Regions from separate parts of the Homo sapiens genome. Here regions 1 and 2 are each reported to be linked to region 3. Evidence: microRNA targets listed by miRTarBase, many of them from high-throughput screens and not tested one by one. Region 3 holds a microRNA gene; each other region holds the end of a gene's coding sequence.
Evidence for each region. Region 3 holds the annotated microRNA hsa-miR-3127-5p (AUCAGGGCUUGUGGAAUGGGAAG, at 2,558-2,580, opposite strand). A microRNA usually pairs through its seed, bases 2 to 8, with sites in the 3' UTR of a target mRNA and lowers its output. Matches are read on the target gene's strand: a 7mer-m8 pairs with bases 2 to 8, a 7mer-A1 pairs with bases 2 to 7 and ends in A, and an 8mer does both.

Region 1 (4,192 bases), not on the chromosome of region 3:
GGAAGAGATCTGGTCCTTATGAAGAATTCTGTGCTCGCAGGAAAGATCTGTAGGAATAATGAAATGCTTTCTTCATTGATGAGATGAAGTCTCTGTTTTTCAGGCAAGTTGACAGAACAAAACAATGAGAAACGAACTTCTTTAGAAGGTTGAATGAAAGTAAGATCTAGATGAAAAAGTCATTGGCCAAAGATAATTTTTTAAAAAAAACATTCTATGTTAACCCTTGGAAAAAAAAACAAAAAACAACCCAGAGAAATACAAGAAAACAATGTACACATTCATTTCACTGACAGTTACAAGAAAATAGCCGTTTATAGAAGTTACACAATGCTTTCAACAAATCCCAAACAAATTTTGGGAAACAGATAAAGCCATTGGGTAAAAATAAATATACATACTAGCTAATATAAAACAATTTATGGTTACGAATTGTCATCAATTCTCTTAGGACACAAGGAGAAATATGGTGATATAAATCTGATGAGGGCTACATATATTACATGGAATTAAAAAACAACTGATTAAAACATCCTAACAATGATACAAATATTTAAAAGAATGTCTTAAAAGTCAGACATTTACCACTGGAAATAGCACGACTTTAATATGTACTCCAGAGTTGTAATGTGTATACAGGTCACTTTCGCTGTGTCTCATCAGGTATCCACCTCTCCTGCATTTACTAGTCAGTTTTTTAAGAGTTCATGTTTCCTGTGTGAGCTGAAGGGGCTGGGCACATTTCAATTTAAAAAATACACACCTCCGATTAACTAAATGGAAGTTTTTTACATCTACCAACAGATAAAGAAAAGAGAGGATAATGGGAAGACAAAACATTGTATTAAGGTAGAAGGAAGCTGGATAAATTGTCTCTGTAAATTATCTTAAATTTTGTATTAACAAATTTAAAATGACTCAAATAAAATAACAAAGAAAAATATATTAATTTGGCCTCAAGGAATTTTCTCAAGCCATAAAAAATTTTCTTAGTTTATTTCTTTACGGAAGTATCTTATGCTTGATCAGCTGACTTAAAGGAACTCTCCTAGTGTGGGACTGAAAACAACTTTATCATTGATAAAAGATGATTAGTTTAAAAAGTTGGTTTTTATTATTGAAGTGCCCACAGGCACAAGAGTATAGGTGCTTACATTTCCCTTTAGATTATGGGAAAGCCCTTTTGAGAATGCACTAAATCAGGAAATCTTTCAGCAATCAGAATGCATGCTGAAAGTTCAGATCTTTTAAGTTTTGGGTTTCGCTGTTTGAGCATAAAAAGGAAGGGAGCAGGGAGAAATGTAACTAGGTTCACAATTTTGAGCAAGAGCATATGTAAAGGTAACGTATGTACATTTTATTTCAAGAAAGACAGAAGACAAACAGCATAAAGATGCCCAGATGCCCTAAAGATAAATACATTTCAAAGATTCTCATTAAAATGAATCTGTAGTATTTTTTTCCTGCAAGCAAAATACCTTTCTTTAAATAAAATTAAAAAAATCAGTATTCTGAATTGCAAATGCTTTTGTTTTTTTTTTGCAGAAAATCTGCCATGATTATTTTTTTAATGAATAAGGATTTTCCACAAAACAGGCTTGCTCTACATGCTAGATTTTTAAACAGTTCAGTGACACAATATGCTAACTACATACACAACAGATAATATAGTAAGAAAACACTCAACCTGATGAAAAGTTAAAATCTTCATTAATACACTGAAAATTGACATAACTCATGCCTTTAAAATCAAAAATACAAAAATTAAATGTTTTCCTAAAAAGATTTCCTTATTTTAAGGATTCATTTGAAAATGAAGCTGCATGTAATTTGTACAGTAAGTTGTACAAGTAAACAGGTAATATACATAAAAAATTAATTGACATACTCCTCAATTATCAGTTGTCCACCTTTAATTTCCAATACTGTACTTTCTTAACAAGCATACAAAATATCAAACTTCTCTTTAGAAAAAGTGCCGTTCTTTGACATCCTTTACACAAAAACAGTCTGAGCCTGTGGCATGTTAATGCAGTTGAGAGGCAAAGCATACGAACTTTTACAAATTCTACCTTCCATAAAAAGCCTCCCGAAAAGGAGATTACACGCCACTATAAAAATATCAACCTCTTGTGGTAGCTGCATTAGAGAACCAAGGCTTGAAGACTATTTTCATATAGCATAGAAAAACCACTATGAGAGCATATTAACTGCATTGGTGGCTTGGGAGTGTACTGTGCCACAGGATTATGCATAGCTACTGTTAGGTACCAAGACTGTTATACAGTTTTAAATTGATTGTAACTGAGAGCATAACAGAGGTACTACCAGCCCATGCAAAATAACTAAAAATACTGAGTCACTGTGCTGAATACTTCATTCCTGGAGAAAACCAAAGGCAGCAGTAACTAAATCAAGCCAAACAGGTGACCAAACTTTCTCCTCAAAGATTTGTGAGCACAGTGAAGTCTGAGGTATACCTTTATCCATTAAATCTGTGTGCCATTGCAAGATATTACCATTTGAGAATATACGCCATCACAATGGTTTAAATCTTTTGTATATTAGTCATTCATATATTCTTATCTACCCAGTCTCTTGATTTTTGAAAAGATTTCACCTACAGTAGAATATTACAGAAACAAAATATAAATGCATGTCTTTCTAAATGAAACTTACATAGACTAAAAGTAGAGAATATTTTTAAACAAATATACAATGTGCAGGCAGACAAAGCAGGAAAACGGCCATTCAAATGTATAATAAAAAACTAAAAATTGACTATCTCCAGAAAACTATGAAGCGCCTCAACTAAAAGGAATGCATAATGAAATTCTAATCTAATACAGGTCAAAAATGTAAAAAGGTTATAAACCTTAACAGGAAAAATAAAACAACTTTTACTGGCCATTCCTGTTGAAATGAGAATCATAAAGTAACAGAAAAGTGGCTACAAACCCACTTAGAGCACCAAACAGAGAGAAAATAAAAGTCCATTTTCATCTCTGTTATTATCATAAAATCCTGTGTGACTACAGGTCAAACTGCTGGTGGCAGAAACAGAATTCTTTATAAACTGCAGATGTCCTGTACATAAAAAATTTCACTGGAGTTGCACTAGTTCTAAAGACTCTTCTGTTTTAGCCTACCTACTATATGTATTCGATCTGAGATAGATAAAGTCTCTTTCTGTAACCCTTAATTATTATTGGGCACCAAAGATAAGAAAAGCAAGACGGGGTACAAAAATGCAAAATTTCAACAGTAATGGCAATGTTTTTGTCTTAGTCCAAAAGGGTCCTGCATTCTCTCCCCCTTCAGTGATTTGACAAGTCTTTGTACTTAATCTGGGGGCAGCAAATCATGCAAGCGAAATCTGTCTCTGATGTGTGGTCGAACATCTTCATTCTGCGTGGAAAAAAGACAATTTTTAAAAAGGCATAAAATTTCAAAGATATGATCCTCATAACATACATTCTTACCTTGCAGAGAAAACATACCAGTTTTTATTTTATGACATATTTTATTTGCCAAATAGAGATACTACACAGATGCAGTTAAATTTAAGATTTTGAAAAGAATTTCGTTGAAGATTTCTTTTTTAAATTTTTGTTTTTTCAGACAGAGTCTTGCTCTGTTGCTCAGGCTGGAGTGCAATGGCACAATCTCAGCTCACTGCAACTTCTGCCTCCTGGGTTCAAGCGATTCTTGTGCCTCAGCCTCCAAAGTAGCTGGGACTACAGACGCCCACCACCATGCCTGGCTAATTTTTTGTAATTTTTGTAGAGGCAAGGTTTCACCATGTTGGCCAGGCTGGTCTTGAACTCCTGACCTCAGGTTATCTGCCCACCTTGGCCTCCCAAGAAGATTTGTTTGTTTGTTTATTTATAAATGAACGAATGAATGAATGAATGACAGGGTCTTGCTCTTTCACCCAGGCTGGAATGCAGTGGCACAATCCTGGTTCACTGGAGCCTCAAACTTCTGGGCTCAAGCAATCCTCCCACCTCAGCCTCCTGTGTAGCTGGAATTATAGGCACACACCACAATGCCCAGCAAGCTTGCTTGCTTATGTATGTATGTATGTATGTATGTATGTATGTATGTATGTATGTATGTATGTATGTAGAGATGAGGTCTCACTATGTTGCCCTGGCTAGTCTCAAACTCCTGGCCTCAAGCAATCCTCCCA
Region 2 (4,192 bases), not on the chromosome of region 3:
TCTCCGTGTTGGCAAGGTTGGCATGAATGGGCCATTATTCAACTGGGGGTGGGATGTCTCCATTTCTGGACTGTGCTCAAATTCACACCTTGTATGACATGTGGGCAGAGGAGCTGGCCTGGAGAGGCCTCTAATTCTGCCTCTACGCTTTTGCTGGGTCTGAGGACATGGGAGGGAGGAGCCATAAAATGCTGGAGAACAATTTTAAAAAACACTTATGAAAAAATGCTGGACACTTGACTCACTGCCAGAACAAAGAAGAGCCAATTCAACATCCCAACTTTACGGGCACGTAAGATTCACAAGCTGAACCAAGAGATTTAGGAAGAAAAAAAAAAACATGGTAATTATAAGGGGTCTGTGAATAAGTTAAACTAAAAGCTGCTTTCACAATCTACAAATTAGGCCTCCAAATCAAAATCATTTATATTAACCAAAAGGTTATCTAATTTTGCCCATATTGGTGTCAAATCTCATCCCCACTCCCTGCCAAAAAAGAGCAACCTAGTTCAGCTGTCGGATTTTTATATAACACTCTCTTTATGTGAGCTAGACTCCAGAGTCCTCACACTTCACAGAAATTCTTTCTTAAAACTGGCACTGCAGCCTTTCATTTACAATATCCCTTTTTAAGTGCAAAGTCGAGGGCTGTGAAAAGAACCACGGTGGGGGGTCTGGGTTACTCAGGTCTTATCCAGTGAAAAATTAGTTCTCTGAATCTTTGCAAAACATCTCCTTCACTGGTGCAATCTAAGAAAGGGAAATGGGAAACTTGTTTACATGATGAAAAATATAATTAAGAGATTGACTCTTTATGGCTTATGGCCGCTCTGACAGACTCGTATTTCTCAAAACTTACATTCAGAAGACACTGTCTGCCACTATTTGAAATCTTTAGAGCTAATCATAAGTTAATGACTAGTCTAAGAGGCCACTTGGTGGGGAAAACAAATCCACTGATATTCTGGTCTTAATCCCTGAACAGAAAATGTGCACACATCCATTAACTATTTGGAACCAATCTGGTGCTATACAACTCTTCTGTGTCCTCTTGACCCCATTTTGTCCTCCTAAAGGGACAACTGTTAGTTCCTTTAACCCACTCAAGCAAGGAGTGGAGGGCAGAGGTTTATCTAAAAGAGCAGTGATGTTGGTTCTTGGAGCCCCCTTAAAAGGGCCATCTGAGCTCTCTGCCTAACGTCCCATTGTCTACATAGATTCCGTTTTGGAAGGATGGTTTCCCAGAGAAAGAGTCCTGCTGTTTGGAGGTCGAGAGAGAGTGACGTCAAGCAAGCGTAGTAAGGGAGAAAATAAAATCCTCAAAGCACTAAGGACAGGGGCTAGAAGTTTCCTTTATCTTCTCCCTCCTCATTTAGAAGAGCACGTTTCCTACTCTACGTCTGGGAGCCTTGAAAACCCAGTCTGGTTCAGTTGCAGCAGGTACATGGGTTGGCTCATTCTCTCACTTCTGCCCCTAAATTTGAAACCTTTCCTTCCTCATTGCCCAAATGCTACTTGAGTAAATCTTATCTTTTTGCCTTCTTTGGGCCCTATAGGCTGCCTATGCCTGATAATGACCTGACAGTTTAAAAGAGAGGGATGGGTCAGTGGAGGCCCATGGTTACCAGACACCAGCCAGGCCCAACAGGATCTGGGCTGCAGACAGTGGAGCAGAGAGAAGCAGAAGCAGAACCTACTAGCAACCCTCCTCCTGCACAGCTCAGACAGTCTCCGCCCTGGCTAATGGGAGGGACAACAAGAACCCTCCAGACAACAGGGCTGCCAGGACTACGGGGGCCCGATCCAGCTTCCACTCACAGTGAGAAGATGAACTTGGCCGCTTTCCAGGCTGGAACCGTCTCCAGCATAGCAGAGAGAGGGGAATCACTCACAGGGAGCCCCAAATGGGCCTAGACAGACAAGGCAGGGACCGACTTATGAGGTATGACGACAAATGTTAATAACATCAAATCCTGTACCTGATATGGAATGGAAGCCAGGGTGTGGGCTTAATCCCTCTAAGTACAGGCTCCAATAACAATGCAGATGACGTGTGTGGGGGTGGGTGGTGGGGGGAGAGAGAGAAGGAGAGACAGAGAGAGAGAGGGAGAGAGAGAAGCCAAAACCAAAGGCATTTCAGCTGCTAATAAAAATAAAATACAAACTCTATGCACATTTCCTACACAAAATCTTTCCCAAGCTCGGAAAAAACACTTGAGGGTTTTCTACATTACACAATAAAAAGGCAATTTCCACTTCTTATTTATATGAAAGAGGAAAGATTTTTTTAAACTACAAAAGTTACTTTTAACCATAAAAAAAAAACAAAAAAACTAAAAGTAGGTTGGGGATTAGGTTGTATCTCTTTGGGCGAGCTGCAAAGTAGCCAAACCTGACTACCAAAGGTAAGAATGTGGATACACAAATGTCACCTACCCCACCCTGCTTTGTTGAGGTAGGGGACGAGGAGGACAAAGTGGAAGTGTGGAGGGAGGAGGGGGCCAGGCAGGTGTGGAAAGCCAGCAAGGTTGTCTGAAATGTCTGTTGTCAGAACAGGGCTTCCCCTTCTCTGTCATGAAAACAGGATAGAAAAAGCTTGTGGCCAGGGAGCCCGGGGCCTGAGTGAGGCATTGTGTCATCTCTCGCTCTGAGCTCATCCTAGAGGCAGACACATACATGCTCAAAGGAACTTCTTTTTCAATGGTAATTATTCCAGTTAAAAGAAAAAACAAAGGAAAGGAAACAAAACATTGTCTGGAAAGACACGGGATCCCAGAGCCTAGGGTGCCCTCCTAGCTCTGAAGGCTCGCAGAAAACTTGGCTAGCTTGAAAGGAGGCATCGATCTCTTCAGTGTGGTTGCTAGCAGGAAGCCTCGGCAAGCTAATAAATACTATTTACAACTGGGGAGGAGAAGCTGGGGAGGCAGAACTATGGATGTGTGGGGAACCAGGTTGTGGGAGGTCCTAAAAGCGACAAGATGGGGCAGGTTTGCCTGGAGTAGAAAAGCCTGATCCCCTCAGGCATTGCACTTGCGGCCTGAGAATATGAACGAGAGCCCTCGCCTGCCAGTGCTGCTGCAGGAGACGAGACGATCCAGCGAGGGCTCCCAGGGGGCAGAGTGGGCGGAGGGCTGCTGTCGGGGGTGTTCACACCAGAGACCCCAGTGCGAGCAACGGAGGACACGGGTCAGTGCTTTGCCAAATACCAACAGGCATTATGGCATTTTTGTGGCCAGAGTCTGGGGTCTTGACTGAACAAGAGCCATCTCGTCTCCAAAGCGGGGGGTTACACCTCACAGGTGCACATTAGGCAATATCTTTTTGGCACTATTGGTGGAAACAAGCCTGCTTGTCCCACCTCCAACCCCTAAAATAATTTCCTATGGCAGTAAGAGAAAGGAAGGGAGGGATGCAGGCTCCCTTCTGCACAGGAGGGGCATGGACCAGGGGGAGATGCTCTCTCACTGCAGGGAAGTCCCAGGCTGGTCTCCAATCTGAAGCCACTAATGCTTGCCCATGTCTCCATGAAGATCCAGTGGCAAAGAGGAAAAGCTGATGACAAAGGTGGTTTGGGGATGTAAAAGTAGAGTTAAGGGAAAGGGAGGGGGTGCAGGCAGCCTCTTTAGAAAGTGGTGTTCACTCTTCTGTCGAGTTCTACAACTTTTAGTGTTTCATTCCCCTCCAGTTTGGCGCTGACCCTGTGAAGGCATTAAAAGGAAAACGAAGTATTAGTCACCAGCTGTTAGCTACAATTCTCATGCTTTGTAGCGTGATGCAATCATTCAGGGGTTGCAACTTGGTGAGACGGCCTGGGCATGTTTCTTGTCCTTTTCTCTCCTAGTAGCAATTCTCTGTTTCCAAAGTCCCCTGCTACCAGCCTCTCCACTAGTCCACATTCCTACCTTTATCTACACCCAAGGCATCCCAACCCTACTAAGGATAATCATGGTGGCTTGATATTGATCTGCTATGAGATGCATTAAATTATTCTATTTACTTAGGATGTTTAGCCCTATGCTAAACTCAGGGAAGGAGAAAATAAAATGATAAGAGCTGATCCTTGGCCTAGAAGAGCTAATAATCCAGATAAAGATTTTTAACAATGAGCTAATTTGAAATAATAATAAATCCATAACAGAAAATAAATACATTATTAAATTGTGTAACAACCTGGAAAATTTCTAGGCATTCA
Region 3 (4,192 bases):
GTGCCCAGTCATCTCCCCTCTCTTCTGGCCACACCAAGTGGGAACAGAGAGACTATGGGTCAACGGACAGAGCCTGGGCCCTAACCGGGCCTCTGAGGCTTCACTGCACAAACAGTGCCTGGGGGAAGCCTCCCGTGCCTGCCCGCCCTTCTGAATGAGATTTCCTCAAACTGAACAGAGAACAGCTGCTCTTGGAGGCACAGGAAGTCATCCCCAGGCCTGAGGCATCTGATAGGGTTAACCTGCTCAGAGCCCCGCTCTGGGGCCCTGTCTGTCCCCTGCCCAGGGAGCCTGCCATGCCCCACTCATCTGGTGGAGGGGCCGAGGACATGGTGGATAAGCCAAGCTGGGTGTCAGTATTCATGGGTGCCCTACCCCCGTTCCCCCTCGGGGTCCTTTTTGTCAAAGGACAGTGAGAGGCACAGCACAGAGGTTCTCTGGGAGCTGCAGCTCGTACCCCACTGGCGTGGCCTGTTCTCCAGCACCAAAGTGGACTTTCTCTCTCTACCCTGCAGCAACCTCGCCCCAGGACCGAAGCCTGGAGAGGAGCGAGGAGATGAGCTGGCGAGACCTGGGCCTGCGGGGCCTTGTCTGTGGGGCTCTGCGGGGAAAGCCTGAGCCACTCAGCACAGGAGAGGGCACTGGGGCGGCCAGAGTGGCGCATCCCCGGACCTTCCATAACACCTCTCGGAGGGTGCCCAGTCTCCCTTCTGTCTGTCCCCAAGGCCCTTTATTCCATCGGAGCTGACCTCTAACCAAAACCCAGTAGCCGCGTCCTCCGAAAAGCCAAACCCATCTGCAGCCTGCCCTGGCAAACAGGCCCTGGCCTGGCTCCTGACCCCAGTCACTTTGGATGCTCAGACTCCCCTCCTGTCCTCAGGAGCAGGGCCCTGGGCCTTCCTCCCCACAGGCCTCCTCTCCAAGCAGGCTGGTCTCCTCACAACCTCTGGACATGCCCTCCGCTGCCTCCAGGCCTTTACTCTAAAATCCCTCACTCCTCTTTTCCCCTCCAGCTTCTGGACCCCATCCAAAGTGGCAGCTCCCTCTGCTCTTCCACACCACCCGCTCCAGGCCCTGGCGGCTCCCGCCTCACCAGCCTCCCTCTGCCCCAGCCAGCTGGCTATGAGCTCTCGGGCCCATGCTCAGTTCTGGTGTCGGTCCATGGCTCCCCAGCTGCAGGGGGGCCAAAGGGCAGCAAAGACCATGCCCAACAACTCACCGGAGGGGACCGAGGTCAGGGCCATAGTCCCATAGTAGGAGAAGGCGCCCGTCTCAAACTTCATGTTCTCCTTCCCTGCCTCCACCTCCACCTTCCCCTGAAAAAACACAGGGCTGGAGTTAGAGACCAAGTGAGGGAGGAAACAAAGGATGAGGCAGGATGGGGAGTGAGGAACAAGGGACAGTGGGGCAGGAGGAAGGGCCGGTACTGGAGCCCTGGAGAGCTCAGGGGCCTGACCTGTGAGATCAAGAGTGGCCTCTCAGGGAGAGGATGGCCACGTGGGGCAGGCGGGGCTCAAGGGCAGGCAGCAGGCTCCCCAGGCAGGGAAGCCATGCACCTCCGCAGCAGGTGGGAGAGAGGGCCTGGGGGTTGCTGCAGTGCCAGGGGGAGCAGGTGGCAGGCCCAGGGCTGAGCGGGCTCACCTGCAGGATGAGGATGAAGTAGTCGGCCGGCTTATTTCGGGTGTACAGGTAATGGCGGGCGTAGTACTTATTGTGCTCGTCAAACTTGAGTTCCTGAATGACATCTGGGTACTTGAGTAGCCGCAGCAGGATCTTCTCTGATATCAGGGAGGGGCTAAACTGAGAGACCTCTGTAGGAGGAGAGAGAAGAGACCTCACACGGGGCTGGCCAGGTGGCCCTAAAGCTCGATCACTGCTGTGCCTCCACCCCAACCACAGCAGCCACGCTGTGCTCAGACGACTCCCGCCCTGCTCGGCCGGCCCTCGTTCTGCACCTCCCTGGGGAGGGAGCACGCTTGGCTTCTGACTGGTTGGATACAAGGCTGCCTGCCTGCCTGGGCTTGAACAGTGGCTCCTGCAAGAACAGCACATGACCTTGGGCAAATTACTTAACCTGCATCTCAGTTTCCTCATCTGTAATATGGGGGTAAAAGCTTCACAGGGTGGTTGTGAGGGTGAATGGGATAGCACATGGACAGCACTTAGTATATATGTGCTGTCCATATATACTAAAATATATAGACTATAATTATTGCATCAGCATCAATATCCCACAGGAAAAATAATGGAGAGGGAATTGCCACCCCTTTAGCAAGTAAGGGGTGGGAAGGAAGATGAATTGGGCCAGGGGAAGAGGGGGACAGAGCGGGCAGAGCAGAACCTGTCACCCAAGTCCCCAGTGGAGCTTTGAATCAGGGCTGAAAAGAGAGAAATGTCTCTGAACTAGAAGTGAATTCCTGCGGGAACCAGCACACGTCTGCAAAGGGGAGAGCTGGAGAGTAAGAGCAGAGCTGGATGCAAGCTCCTCAGAGTGGGTGAGCACACGAGGGGTCCAGCCACACCCAGCAGGCCTGCAGAAGGGGAAGCGTCCCTTCTCCTTCCCATTCCACAAGCCCTGATGGGCCTGGCCAGCCTAGGGGCCCACCTCAGTGGTTATTTTCTTTTTTGTTATTTTTGAGACAGAATCTTGTTCTGTGGCCCAGGCTGAGTGCAGTGGTGCATTCACAACTTACTGCAGCTTCAAACTCCTGGGCTCAAGCGGTCCTCCCACATCAGCCTCCTGAGTAGCTGGGACCACAGACATGCAACTGTCCCACCTCATAGCCTCCCAAGTAGCTGGGACTACAGGAGGGCACCACCATGCCTGGCTTTTGTATTTTTTGTAGAGATGGGGTCTCGCCATGTTGCTCAGGCTGGTCTCGAACTCCTGGGCTCATGCAATCCTCCTGCCTCGGCCTCCCAAAGTGCTGGGATTACAGGTATAAGCCATAGTGCCTAGTCATTATTTCCCAAACTATTAAATATAGTAACTTGGATGCTTCCTAGAAGTTTGCAGTAGCCGCCCATTAATGGCAAATGAATCGCAGGGAGATCCCCAGGGGTGGAGCAGATACCCGGCCCCTTCCAGGGGTGGCTGTGTTGTCTCTGCACCCCTCACCTGCTGCAGCCCTCGTCCTATGGGGGGAAAGCAGCCGGAAACCCAGGACTTCTCCCCCGTGACCGTATTTCCACCAAGACCGGAAGGTCCTCCTCATGCTACCTGTGGCTAGGAAGCGATGAGCGGCCAGGAGGAGCTGCGGGGAGATTTTCACTTTGAGCTCATTGTCCGCATCCTTGAAGGCAGAGAAGTCACGCTTGTTCTTCTCAGACACCCGCTTCCGGCTTCGGTTGTCAGCTGCCGGAAGAAGAGCGTGGAATTGAGAACACAGACCCCTGAGGACTTAGGAAGAGACTGGAACCCGCCCCGCAGCTCCTGCTCTCCAGCCCCTAGTCCCACGCAGGAGCAGCAGGCTCTGGCTGGCAGGGTCCTGGGCTGACGCCGAGGCACAAAGGCCGAGGGTGAAGGCAGCCTCCGGGCACTGCTCTCAGCAACCTGCTCCCTGCTCACCCCGGCCAGTGCAGGGCACCCAGCCACTGGGCCTCTGGATGCTAGGCCTCCTGTGTCCCTGCACTATGGCCCTTCCAGCTAGGGACACCAAGTTTCGATCCAAGCAGGAAAGGGGTCCTGGGCCCTGTGGAAGGCTGGACTCACTGTACATGTCGGACTCGTCCAGGATCTCCGACTTGATGATCTCCTCGATCACGTCCTCCAGGGTGACCAGGCCCAGGACCTCGTAGAAGGGGTCACCCTCACCCTCGTTGTTTACCTTCTGCACGATGGCCAGGTGGGACTTCCCTGTGGGACAATGCAGCAAGTCAGACAAGAGCCCAGAGGCCAGTCATGAGACTCCCTCAACCAAAACATTAACTCTAGACGTAGGGTCATAAGTCACCAGGATGGGGTCATGGTGGTTTTTATCTTTTCCATCTTTCCTGACGTTTCTACTGCAAACAGACATTGCTTTTATGAAAAGGAAAACTAAAAGTAATTTTTAAAAGCATGTCGTTAAGGACCACTTTTTTGTTTTTCTCTGTTTTTGTGGAGGAAGGACAGGGTCTAGCTCTGTTACCCAGGCTGGAGTGCAGTGGCGCAATCATAGCTCACTGCAGCCGCCAACTTCTGGGCTCAAGA

Region 1: the mRNA of CTDSPL2 is a reported target of hsa-miR-3127-5p. The part of its 3' UTR that is shown has no 7-base or 8-base seed match.
Region 2: miRTarBase lists CREB3L2 as a target of hsa-miR-3127-5p. The part of its 3' UTR that is shown has no 7-base or 8-base seed match.

The regions. Positions count from the first base shown.
Region 1 is chr15:44,523,325-44,527,516 of GRCh38, reverse strand. CTDSPL2 (CTD small phosphatase like 2) reads right to left here. Exons shown (of 13, transcript NM_016396.3): 13 at 1-3,408. The coding sequence ends at 3,343. Among named protein-coding and RNA genes, the nearest start is that of EIF3J-DT, 12 kb to the left of the region's middle.
Region 2 is chr7:137,876,854-137,881,045 of GRCh38, forward strand. It overlaps CREB3L2 (cAMP responsive element binding protein 3 like 2), which reads right to left. Exons shown (of 12, transcript NM_194071.4): 12 at 1-3,698. The coding sequence ends at 3,623. Among named protein-coding and RNA genes, the nearest start is that of DGKI, 32 kb to the left of the region's middle. RefSeq lists enhancers at 1,780-2,511, 2,512-3,245 and a silencer at 2,470-2,764.
Region 3 is chr2:96,796,676-96,800,867 of GRCh38, reverse strand. MIR3127 (microRNA 3127) reads right to left here and starts at 2,590; the gene lies at 2,515-2,590. It overlaps CNNM4 (cyclin and CBS domain divalent metal cation transport mediator 4), which reads right to left. Exons shown (of 7, transcript NM_020184.4): 2 at 3,713-3,856; 3 at 3,221-3,355; 4 at 1,642-1,811; 5 at 1,220-1,316. RefSeq lists an enhancer at 1-157.